Regions from separate parts of the Homo sapiens genome. Here region 2 is linked to region 1. A link means that fine-mapping ties the variant in region 1 to the expression of a gene that starts in the linked region. Tissue or cell type: whole blood. Region 1 holds a variant in brackets; the other region holds the start of a gene. All regions are shown on one strand. Distances are between the middles of the regions.

Region 1 (2,756 bases):
CCACGCAGGAACAATGGTGAGCCTTTAGCCCAATTGGGAGGGGCAACGGGCACCTCGCTGGATCAGGAGCGCAGCAGACAGCCTGCTGGATCCAGAGGGATGGAAGTCAGTGGCAGGTCTGCGATGGCGCCAAATAGCAGTGGTGGATGCCGAGTGAAAGCTCAGCTTGAGCCGTAACAAACACGGACCAGAAGAGTGTGCAGTTGCAAGATTTAATAGAGTGAAAAAAGAGCTCCCATAAAATGGGAGGGGACCCAAAGGGGGTTGCCCATGTCAATGCTTTAAAGATGTCCCCACGCTGTTTTTTTTTTTTTTTTGAAACAGAGTCTAACTCTATCACTCAGGCTAGAGTGCACTGGCACTATCGTGGCTCACTGCAACCTCTGCCTCCCGAGTTCAAGTGATTCTTGTACCTCAGCCTCCCAAGTAGCTGGGATTAGAGGCATGTGTCACCACACCTGGCTAATTTTTGTAGTTTTGGTAGAGACAGAGTTTTACTGTGTTGACCAGGCTGGTCTCAAACTCCTGGCCTCAAGTGATCCCTCTGCCTTGGCCTTCCAAAGTGCTGGGATTACAGGCATAAGCCATTGTGCCTGGCCCCCTACTGTCTTCTTTGCTTACATTGTTTCTAAAAAATTGATGTCATCCTTCTCTTTATTCTTTCCCTTGTATCAAACATGTCTTTTTTTCCCCTCTAACTGCTTTTAGGAGTTTCTCTTTTCACTGATTTGTGCAATTTGCTTATGATGTGCCTTGAAGCAGTTTTCTTCATGTTTCTTTTGTTTAGCTCTAATTGAACTTCTTGGATCTATGGGTTTATTGTTTCATTAAGTTTAGAAACATTTCAACCATTCTTCCTTCAAATATTTTTCTATTTTTTCCACTGTTTTTTGGAGCCAATTACACATATATTAGGCCATTTGAATACTCACTAATAGTCTGTTAATTTTTTAAGTTTTTTCTCCAAGATTTTGGTTATTTTCTATCCTTATGTCTTCAGTTTTACTAATCTTATTAGGCCATTTGAATACTCACTAATAGTCTGTTAATTTTTTAAGTTTTTTCTCCTAGATTTTGGTTATTTTCTATCCTTATGTCTTCAGTTTCACTAATCTTATCTTCTGCAGTAGCCAATTTGCTATATTAAGCCCATTCAGTGTATTTATTTCAGGCATTGCATTTTTCATCTTTAGAAATTTGGATTTCATGTTTTTTCTTTTAATATTTCTACTTAATTTTTGAACATATAGGATACAGTTATAATTTTTAATGACTTTTTTGTTCATTCTAACATATGTGTCAGTTCTGGCCAGTTTCAACTGATTATTTTTCTCCTCTTTATGTCTCACAGTATCCTGATTCTTTGCATGCCTAGTAATCTCCAACTGATGCCAGACATTACAATTTTACTAGTTGAGTGTTACAGATTTTTGTACTCCTATAAATATTCTTGGGCTTTGTTCTAGGGCATAATTAAGTTACGTGGAAACTGTTTGGTTCATTTGGGTTTTGCTTTAAAGATTTGTTTGTTGAGGCTCAATTCATCTGGGAGGAGGTGAAAAAATAAAAAGAGACT[A/C]AAGCCCTGTTTAGTCTAAAACTAATTACTCTGTACTATTGAGGCAAGACCTTTTTGAGTATTCTACCAATGCCCTGTGAATTAGGAAGTTTTCTAGGTTAGCTGGTGAGAACAGGCTATTTTCCCAGCCTGTTGTGATACTATTTCTTCTTCTTCTTTTTTTTTTTTTTTTTTTTTTTGCTGACTCTTTCCTCTACTTCATGTAGTTTCTTCACATACAGTGGCTGATAATTTCTCTGCTGAAGATTTAAAGGGGACCTTTTGCAGATCTCAAGAACTCTCTCTGTACCACTCTCACCTCTCCATATATATTGTCCTGCAAACCACTGCTGCTTTGCTCACACTGAACTCCCAGCTTTGTCTTCTCAACTCAGGGAATCTGCCCGGCTCTGCTAGAGTTATTCCTCCCCATGCTGTGGTCTGAACATTCTCTCAAGCCAGTAAGCTGAGGCAGTCATAGGACTCAACTTTCTTTTTTTTCCTTCACTCAGGGGTAACTGTCTTTCATTGCCTGATATCCGGTGTCTTAAGAACTGTTATTTCATCTATTTGGTCTGGTTTTGTGTTGTTGTTCTAGGCAGGAGGGTAAATTTGGTACCCATTATTACATCTAGCAGAAGTCTTGAATGTACTTGTTAACAAATGTTTTATTAGGGAAAACTTCAAGCTTATATAAGTGGGCAGAATAGTTTTGTCACTGCCTATGTCTTCATCTCTAGGCTTTAAAACATGATCAAATCAGGGCCAATCTTGTTTTATCTGTGCCCCCACTCACTTCTCTCCCTCTTGCTTTTTTTTTTTTTTTTTTTTTTGAGACAGAGTCTCACTCTGTCGCCCAGGTTGGAGTGCAATGGCACAATCTTGGCTCACTGCAACCTCCACCTCCCAGGTTCAAGCAATTCTCCTGCCTAAGCCTCCTGAGTAGCTGGGATTATAAGCACGTGCCATTACACCTGGCTAATTTTTGTATTTTTAGTAGAGACGGGGTTTCCCCATGTTGGCCAGGCTGGTCTTGAACTCCTGGCCTCAAGTGATCTGCCTGCCTTGGCCTCCCAAAGTGCTGGGATAACAGGCATGAGCCACTGCGCCCAGCCTCCCTCTTGCATTTTGAAGCAAATCCCAGACATCATGTAAGCTCATCTGTGAATATTTCAGGGTGAGTTTCTGTAGGGGTCCCTGC
Region 2 (2,606 bases), 150 kb before region 1:
TGCCTGTCTCCTTCCCGTAGCCAAATCTACGGGAAGTGTCCAGCCAGTGTAGGGGTCAAGGGACCGCTTGACGAGACCAACGTAAATTGAAGAGGCGTAAGGAGATGAGGCCAAAGAGGAAAGGGGACCAGGTCACGTAGAACCTCGTAGACCACTGCAGAACCTTGGCTTACGTACGCAGAGACAGCAGGAACCACTGATAGGTTTAGGGAGATTTGAGGAGAGGGACATGATTTGGCTTATGTTATGTTGTTAAAGGGACCACATTAAAATACATTCATTCTAAAAGTGTTACCTTTAAGAAACTACGTATATAAATTAAGTTACTGTTGCCATTATTAGCGTAAGTAGTTACATTTCTCTTACGACTCACTCTCTGCTACTGCCTCTTGGACCCTGCACACCTTGTGGAGGCCCATGAGAGTGACGTGCTGTGGTTCCCCCTCTCCCCACTCCTGCTCTGCACTTTGTCATTCACGTTCATCTCCCTCCTTGAGTGTCACCTCTCTCTGGCTCGTCACGGAGCCACGGCAAAGCGTCCTTTCCCAGGAACCCCTCCCCCTGGGGAGGTGAGCTCCTCGCCGCCAGGGCCGTGTCGCGCACCTCGGGCCGGGTACCCAGGCGGCGCTCGGCGGCGAGCGGAATGGATGTGGAGGAGCGCTCGGCAGGGAGCGCTGCCGCCCTGGCCTTGGCCTCTGGGAGCGGCGCGGCCAGGGTTTTCTGTGTCAGCCAAGCCCGGAATGCGGGGGCGCCTCTGGACCCTCCTCTTGGGTCTGGGGGCTGCCTCGGGCATCCTCTACTCCTCTCCCACCTTCTGTCCTTCCCCATCTCCCACCCACACGTGTGGGGCCCCGGACCCGCGCAGCGGCCAGAGCCTTCCGCTGTGGACCTCCAGTCCACCCCTCCCCTTCACTTCTCTTTCCGGCTCCCTCCGGGTCTCTCAGCCCCCTCCCCTTCCTCTCCGCCCCCTTCCCCGCCGTCTGCCCAGCGGCGGCCTTCGGCCCGCCCCTTCTCTCCAACCCCCTCCCTTTCCCCTTTACGCCCCTCCTCCCCCTCGTCCTCCCGCCCCCTCCCACCCCAACCTGCTGGGCCCGCCGGGACTCGCCCCCCTGCCCGCTCCTCTCCTCCAGCCCCGGCCGGCCTCGGCTCGGCCCCCGGCCCGCCCCTTCCAGCCCTCGGCACCTCCCGCCGGCCGCTTGGCTCCGCCACTCGGCACTCACTGCCCGGGCCGCCCGGACAGGGAGCTTCGCTGGCGCGCTTGGCCGGCGACAGGACAGGTTCGGGACGTCCATCTGTCCATCCGTCCGGAGAGAAATTACAGATCCGCAGCCCCGGGATGGGGCCGGCCCCGCTGCCGCTGCTGCTGGGCCTCTTCCTCCCCGCGCTCTGGCGTAGAGGTGAGTGCGCCCGGCTGGGGGCCAGGCGAGGGGGTGGGGGCTCCCAGGAGGAAGCAGGGGCCTCTGGGGAGGGAGCGCGTCCACAGGGGCGCGCCTGGCTGCTGGACAAGTTTGCAAACACCCTCCACCCACTGCGGTGCCAGAGGAGGGGGCGTAGGCGAACCTACCGTCCACTGACCGCGGCGCCTCAAGCGTCCCGAGGGCACCCAGCCTGGCTTGCGGGTGCGCATCGTGGTGAAGCCGGGTCGGGGTCGGCGTTGCAGGCTCCCCTCTTCACCGCAGAGGAGGAAATCGAGCTCGGCCGGGCGCGCTGCAAGTCCTGAAGTTCCGACGAGTGGAACGTAGGTAGCAGGTCTGGTCTGGGATGCGACGAGAACTTTCCACTAGAGTTGCATGGTGGGGCCCCGCTCTGGCCGGAGTCCCGGGGGCCACAGATCCGGTCTCCCGAGGGACCGGCGCGGGGCGAACGAACGGGCTGCGGGAGTCGGAGCCGCAGTCCGGGAGCCGCGATAGACTGAGGCCGAGCGACGGGCCAGGGGGGGACGGCAGTCCTGGCTGCTCCCAATGGGCCCTTACGGGCATTATTAGTATCCCTTTTTAGGGGCACCCAGAGAGTGTGGGAAAAGGGGAGCGTTCTTTTCACTCCTGTTATGGCAGAACAGAACTTACAGTGCTCGGCAGCGTTTACGTTTATCTGGATTCAGCGAAGTGTTGTTACAGGCTTTTTTTTTTTTAATTTGAGACCGAGTCTCGCCCTGTCGCCCAGGCTGGAGTGCCGCGGCGCGATCTCGGCTCACTGCAGGCTCCGCCTCCCGGGTTCAAGCGATTCTCCTGCCTCAGCCTCCCGAGTAGCTGAGACTATAGACGCGCGCTACCACGTCCGGCTAATTTTTGTATTTTTAGTAGAGACGGGGTTTCACCATGTTGGCCAGGATGGTCTCGATCTCTTGACCTCGTGATCTGCTCTCCTTGGCCTCCCAAAGTTCTGGGATTACAGTCGTGAGCCACCGCGCCCGGCTTGTTCCAGGCATTTTAATACAAGATGCTGGACTGATACGTGGAGGCAAGGAAGGCCGGTTTCATTCTGCTTGAACAGCTTATTTGGGGAGTGAGTGATGAACAGATTTCAAGTTTGATCGCTGATGCACTTCTTGAGGAGGCTGGAATAAACTTACCAGGCTTTACCCAAAAGAAAAAGAAAGGGGAAAA

What was found. PIP is the estimated chance that this variant, and not a neighbour inherited with it, causes the effect.
Region 2: it holds the start of MERTK, and the variant in region 1 is fine-mapped to the expression of MERTK in whole blood (INTERVAL, PIP above 0.99).

The regions. Positions count from the first base shown.
Region 1 is chr2:112,044,721-112,047,476 of GRCh38, forward strand. No RefSeq gene overlaps it. Among named protein-coding and RNA genes, the nearest start is that of TMEM87B, 9.2 kb to the right of the region's middle. The variant A/C (reference allele first, on the strand shown) is at 1,577.
Region 2 is chr2:111,897,400-111,900,005 of GRCh38, forward strand. MERTK (MER proto-oncogene, tyrosine kinase) reads left to right here and starts at 1,208. Exons shown (of 19, transcript NM_006343.3): 1 at 1,208-1,397. The coding sequence starts at 1,337. RefSeq lists an enhancer at 347-676.